Homo sapiens: one gene and its partner. The protein of the gene in region 1 interacts with the protein of each later gene in a biochemical or structural test. Each region holds a gene or a part of one and is shown in the gene's direction. Other genes may lie near its edges.

Region 1 (3,500 bases):
TTGGGGCAAATGTTCATATCTCCTTTCCCATCCCGGCATGGAAACAAGTGAGAAATAACACACAGAAGTCAGTGTGAAAAAGCCTCAGACGGCCAGGCATGCTGGCTCACGCCTGTAAACCCAGCACTTTGGGATTCCGAGGTGGGTGGATCCCTTGAGGCTAGGAGTTCAAGACCAGCCTGGCCAACATGGTGGAACCCCATCTCTATTAAAAATACAAAAATTAACCAGGTGTGGTGGCGGGTGCCTGTAATCCCAGCTACTCAGGAGGCTGAGGCAGGAGACTCTCTTGAACCTGGGAGGTGGAAGTTGCAGTGAGCCAAGATTGCACCACTGCCCTCCAGCCTAGGCAACAGAGCAAGACTCTGTCTCAAAACAGAAAACCTCAGACGTCAGCTTTCTTACTGGCCATGACTGCAGCATGGTGCTGGCACAAACCACCAGAGGTGGGGTGGATGCCACAAGTTAAGGACACCATCCCCAGCATAACTGCTCCCTCTTTAGACACCAGCCACAAGTTCAGGGGTCCCCAACCCACTCACACTTCTGACCGACTGGCTACAAATTCAGGGACTCCCAAGACCCTGCCAAGTTTGATCGTTTGCTAACAGACTCACAGAACTCAGGAAATCCTCCATTTTTATCCCAGTTTTATTATGAAGGACACAGCTCAGGTCCGACCAAATGAAGAAGCATCTCCCCTCCCTCCCCTAGCACATCAATGTGATCACCAACCAGGAAGCTTCACTGAGCTTCAGCAGCCAGAGTTTTTATTGGGATTTCATTACATCGTCATGACTGATTGAGTCATTGGCCGTATGATCAAGCTTAGTCTCTAGCCCCCGTTCTTGGAGGTCAGGCTGGATGAAAGCTGCAACCCTCTTCAAATCACATGATGTATCTTTGCGGGGCTGAGTCATCTCATTAGTATCAACTCAGGAATAGTCTGAGGGGCTCATGAATAACAAAGATACCCCATTCCAAGGACTTAGAGTCTCCCTCCCAGGAATCAGGACAAAACCCAGACAGATTCTTTCTTATACAACACTGATCAAGCTGGATTAGAGGACAACGTGGCTTGATCCCAGATGGGCTTTTAATGACTTCCTCCTGAACTGGATTTATCCTCAGGCCTTGTCCTGGCCGCCTTACAGGATCACAGCGAGTAGACAGACCCGAATGACTCAGAGGGACGAGGGCTGGCTGGGCACGCACAGTTCCTGCTCCCAGTTCCATAGGAAGAGTGAAAGAAAAGAAAGCTGGCCAGGTGCAGTGGCTCACCCCTATAATCCCAGCACTTTGGGAGGCCAAGGCAGGCAGATCACCTGAGGTCTGGAGTTTGAGGCCAGCCTGGCCAACATGGTGAAACCGTCTCTACTAAAAATAAGAAATTAGCCAGGCATGGTGGTGCGTGCCCGTAATCCCAGCTACTCAGGAGGCTGAGGCAGGAGAATCGCTTGAACCCAGGAGGCGGAGGTTACAGTGAGCCAAGATCACACCACTGCACTTTTGGACAATTGCTAGCTTTCCTTTTCTTTTGAGACAGAGTCTTGCTTTGTCACCCAGGCTGGGGTGCAGTGTTGTAATCAACAGAGTGAGACTCCATCTCAAAAAAAAAAAAAAAAAAGGAAGGGATTGGGGGAAGAGCCTGGGGCTGGGGGCTGCAGAGATGCTGAAATTGATGACGCCCTTGACACTCTTTTCTTCCCACCCCGGCGGCTCTTGCAGCGGGCACTGCTACTACCAGACTGTGGTGACCCCCGTCATCGAGCAGATCCTGCCTGACTCCCCTGGCTCCCACCTGCCCCACACCGTCACCCTGGTGTCCATCCCAGCCTCATCTCATGGCAAGCGTGGACTTTCAGTCTCCATTGACCCCCCGCACGGCCCACCGGGCTGTGGCACCGAGCACTCACACACCGTCCGCGTCCAGGGGTGAGTGGCCGGCCTGCCGAGGCTGCCGTCGGTGTGGCTATGGCTGTTGATGTGGGTGGCAGAGTCTGGCACTGGGGGCCCTGAAAATGAATGGGCGAGTGTTTGGGTACAGATGGGGCCCAGTTCTGACAACCTGGTTTGCCAGATTTCTGGCCCAGTCATTCCTCTGAATACCATTACAAATGCCAGATACAATAAAAAGACATTTTCAACCGGGCATGGTGGCCCACACCTGTAATCTCAGCACTTCGGGAGGCCGAAGTGGGTGGATCACCTGAGGTCAGGAGTTCGAGACCAGCCTGGGCAATGTGGTGAAACCCCGTCTCTACTAAAAATACAAACGTAGCCAGGCATGGTAGTGTGTGCCTATAGTGCCAGCTGCTTGGGAGGCTGAGGCAGGAGAATCACTTGAACCCAGGAGGTGGAGGTTTCAGTGAGCCCCGACTGCCATTGCACTCCAGGCTGGGCAACAAGAGTGTAACTCTGTATCAAAAAAATAAAAATAAAAAAAACACACTCAAAAAATAAAAAGACATTTTCTTTAGTCCATGTCTGATCCAACAAGAAAGAGGAGGAACCAAGTCAAGAATGAGTGAAGAAGCTGGGCGCAGTAACTCACACCTGTAATCTCAGCACTTTGGGAGGCCAAAGTGAGAGGATCACTTAAGGCCAGAAGTTTGAGACCAGCTTGGGCAACATAGCGAGACCTGCATGTCTACAAAAAAAAAAAAAAAATTAAAAATTAGCCAGGCATGGTGAAATCACTGAACACATAAAGGCTGGGCATGGTTGCTCACACTTATAATCGAAACACTTTGGGAGGCTGAGATGGGAGGATCACTTGAGGCCAGGAGTTCGAAACCAGCCTGGGAAACATTGTAGTCACAGCTACTTGGGAGGCTGAGGCAGAAGGATCTCTTGAGCCCAGGAAGTGGCTACAGTGAGCTATAATTGCACGACTGCACTCTAGGCTGGGCAATGGAGCAAAACCCTGTCTCAAAAAAATGGGGCAGGGCTGATAAAGATTAGATTACTGTGTGACTTTGAGCAGCTGCTTTCTCTCTAGGCTTTGGGGGTCTGTTTGAACAATGAGGGAGTTGGATACCTTGGAGCTTTCTAAGATTTCTGTGGCGCCTTTATTGACACCTTGAGAAGTAGCATGCAGTGTTTCTACTTTTGGGCAATTGGTCACTTCTTTTTTTTTGAGACAGTCTCACTCTGTCGCCCAGTCTGGGGTGCAGTGGTGTGATACCAGCTCACTGCAACCTCCACCCACAAGGTTCAAGCAATTCTTGCACCTCAGCCCCCTGAGTAGCTGGGACTACAGGTGACCACATGTGGCTAATTTTTGTATTTTTAGTAAAGACAGGGTTTCACCATGTTGGCCAGGCTCGTTTCAAACTCCTGGGCTCAAGTGATCCTCCCTTCTCGGCCTCCCAAAGTGCCGGGATTACAGGTGTGAGCCACCGTGCCCGGCCCAAGTGCTAGCTTTCTCTCTCTCTTTTTTTTTTTTTCGAGACGGAGTCTCGCTCTGTCGCCCAGGCTGGAGTGCAGTGGTGTGGTCT
Region 2 (3,500 bases), on another chromosome or scaffold:
GTAGCAAGCAGAAATGGAAAATTTATTTATTGATAGGATACTGAGGCTTCAAAGGGGCCCAGGAACCCATTTCTTCAAGTGTTTGCATTGGATATCAGTTACATTAACCGCTGTCCAGTTGCCATTTAGCATGACTCCTCTCTGTAAGAAGGCATTTGAGAAGTAAGATGGTTTTCCTTCCTGTCTTTTTCCACCATTTATCTATATATCATTCACCCTCTGCTTTCTTAATGCTTACCTCCATGTAGTAGCCGCCTTAAGAACAAGATGTGGTATGGCCTTCTGGGAACCAAAGAACTTTTGCAGCGCTCTTACAGGAAACTGGAAGAACGAGTGCATTTGGAGGTTAGTGGAAAAGCGGGTAGTCTTTCCTGGGTATGGAGAAAGGAAATCTCATGGCCTTGGGAATACCGTACATGCTGATTCTTCCTGAGCTTTAACTCTGTGATCCTCACAGCTCATGGGAGGAAGGCATGAAGATAGATTTCCATGTAATGGAAGAGAAGACAGAGCCCTTTCCCCATCTCTGTAAATGTTCCTTCATGTTGCTATCTAAAGATCCAGCTAATGAGAGCTACTCTTTTCTTTCAGTGTGATGGAGAAACCATCTCCTTGCCAAACCTGCAAGGCATTGTAGTGCTCAACATTACCAGCTATGCTGGAGGTATCAACTTCTGGGGAAGCAACACAGCAACCACGGTTAGTATGGAACAAGGAATGGGGAGGAAGAAAGGCATGATCCCACTAAGGTCTCTCTGAAGGAAGCATTGTGCTAACTGAAGTGAAAAATAGACAATGGGAGAAGAGGAGGTGGTCCGAGAACCTTTATTAGCAGCAGCTGTATGATCAGTTTTTCAGGCAATTACCATCCGAAAGCAGAAAATTCAACCAAAGACCTCAGGATAAGGTCAACTCGTAGGTGTTGCCTGGGCTTTGGATTTTCCATTCCTCGGGTCTGACAGATCCTTTAAAGGCTATCTAGACCATGCTTTTTTTTTTTTTTTTTTTTTGAAACGGAGTCTTGCTCTGTCATCCAGGCTGGAGTGGCAAGATCTCAGCTCACTGCAACCTCCGCCTCCCAGGTTCAAGTGATTCTCCTGCCTCAGCCTCCCGAGTAGCTGGGATTACAGGCGCCAGCCACCATGCCCGGCTAATTTTTGTATTTTTAGTAGAGACAGGGTTTCGCCATGTTGACCAGGCTTGTTGACCTTGAACTTTTGGCCTCAGGTGATCCACCCACCTTGGCCTCCCAAAGTGCTGGGATTACAGGTGTGAGCCACTGCGCCCGGCCAAGGCCATGCTCTTTTCTCCAAGGAATTCTGTCAGTAAAATCTCCTGGGATGCTGACCATGACCCCTTTACTCTGAGTTTACCCAAGAAGGTCATAAGGCCAATAAGACTGGCCTCAGGTATTTATGATGCTGGATTGGAAAAGGAGGGAACTGGCTAAGAGTGCAGTACCCTTTTCCCAGATTGGCTTTCTGACCTCATCTTTTTCCCTTTTAATAATGAAGTGTTTCCACTCTTCATGAGCTAGAAAAATTCTCACCAGGAGCCTTTAAACATGCCTTCTTGTTATAGACAGGGTGTGATTTCTCAAGGGTGGGAGATGTGACACAGTTCTTCCTCCTCAGGAATATGAGGCTCCTGCAATCGATGATGGGAAACTGGAGGTGGTGGCAATCTTTGGTTCTGTGCAGATGGCAATGTCCCGTATCATCAACCTGCATCATCATCGCATTGCCCAGGTAGGCAGGGGCTGGGTGGGCACTGGGAAGGGGCTGAGGTTTTTGACTGCTACCCAGGATGTGGGATAGTCCCAGGAATTAACTGGGTAGAAGAATGCCAGGGTGGAGTGAGCAGGTTATCTGGTGGGCAGTAAAGTGCTGACTGAGGTTGGAGGCAGAGGTGGCAGAAGCCAATGGAGCAAAAAGCCCATAGGAAACAGGCATTTCTTCCTGGGATGATCTGATTCACATCCTTTCCAGTCCTGCTTCAGATACACATTCAAGGCCATAACTATGAGATTATCAGATAGAGTTACAGCAGTTGCCCCATTTTTCTCTCCCATTCTTCCTCATTTTCTCTGGCAGTGCCATGAGGTGATGATAACCATTGATGGTGAAGAAGGTATCCCAGTGCAGGTGGATGGGGAGGCCTGGATTCAGAGACCAGGCCTTATCAAAATTAGATACAAGAACGCTGCCCAGATGCTGACAAGAGATCGGGTAAGGGGGAAAATCTTGTCTTGGGCTCCTATACTGCCTCATCCATAGTCACTTGAGTACTGAATATTTCCACTCAAGCAGAATTCCTCAAAAGGAGGTCTGTGTGCCCCTGGCATCAGAGTCACTTGAGATGCTGGTTATAAATGCATTCTTGGGCCCCCACACCAGACCCACTGAACCACATAGGGTTGCATAGTTCCCAGGAACCCAAATTTGCAAACAGGCTCCTCAAGACACTCTGATATATACTGACATTTGCAAACACTGTCCAAGAGAGTGAGACAAGGAGCTTCCTCCCCTGGTTTTCGACAAGGTTATCCTCCTCTTTCCACTGCAAAGAGAGCTAAAAGCGTCAGATGATTATGGAAAAATCTTCTCCTTCAGCAACAGATTCTGCATTGAACATGGTCTTTAGGTGTCTCTAAGGTTCCTTAAAATGCTGCATTAATACATGTCATCCACTTCAGCTAAAGCTTCTAAAGCTTATAAAGGAGCTATTATTGATCACATATTCAATGCTTGGAGGTTATCTTGCACTCTAACCTGTGAAAAGTCCATGGAAACAGCAATAGAGAAAGGAAGAGAAGTCCAGTTTATAAACTGCCTATTCTGTGCTAGGCATTTTACATTTCTCTCATGTAGGTTCTCTCCACAATCTTATGAGGTGGATACACTTATTCCCATTTTACAGATGAGGAAAATGAGGACCAGAGAGGTTAAATAATTTGCTAATGGTCACACAACTAGTAAATGACAGAAACACGATTCAAAATTAAATTAGATATGTTTGGCTCTAAACTGCATCACCACATATTGCCTACATTTGGCAAAGAAGGGAGCATGAAAGGTGCTCCACTGTCTTGTCAGTCATGATGCCTTCATATGGGAGCTTCTAGAAACCAGACATGTGTATGATCCAAGCCTGGTGTCCCAAAATCCAGCATACTCAGAACAACAAAAACTAAAGGGCATAGTCCAGAAGAGATTGAATAAAATGATGGATACTTGTATAGGTATATAGATGGGTATGACAGGGGGAATGGACAGGGGGCCCTCCTTCCCCTCTACCCACTGTACCCACATACCCATTGCCCACAAACGTCAGGCTCACAGACAGATCTGTCATGTGCACTAGTAGCTACAGCAATCATTAGGATATGCCACTGTATTCATCTCCAGGACTTTGAGAACTCAATGAAAATGTGGGAATACAAGCATACTGAAATTCAAGCTGCCCCTCAACCCCAGCTGGACTTCCAGGACTCTCAAGAG

What was found. The genes of interacting proteins can lie anywhere in the genome.
Region 2: the proteins of LIMK1 (region 1) and DGKK interact in a test that uses a peptide from one of them, tested with the Homo sapiens proteins (one large-scale study listed by IntAct).

What each region holds. Positions count from the first base shown.
Region 1 is NC_000007.14:74,097,304-74,100,803, forward strand, and holds part of LIMK1 (LIM domain kinase 1), read left to right. Parts: intron 1-1,728; coding exon 1,729-1,935; intron 1,936-3,500. UniProt on the Homo sapiens protein: Serine/threonine-protein kinase that plays an essential role in the regulation of actin filament dynamics. Acts downstream of several Rho family GTPase signal transduction pathways.
Region 2 is NC_000023.11:50,376,826-50,380,325, reverse strand, and holds part of DGKK (diacylglycerol kinase kappa), read left to right. Parts: intron 1-248; coding exon 249-345; intron 346-591; coding exon 592-699; intron 700-1,634; coding exon 1,635-1,748; intron 1,749-2,093; coding exon 2,094-2,228; intron 2,229-3,407; coding exon 3,408-3,500. UniProt on the Homo sapiens protein: Diacylglycerol kinase that converts diacylglycerol/DAG into phosphatidic acid/phosphatidate/PA and regulates the respective levels of these two bioactive lipids.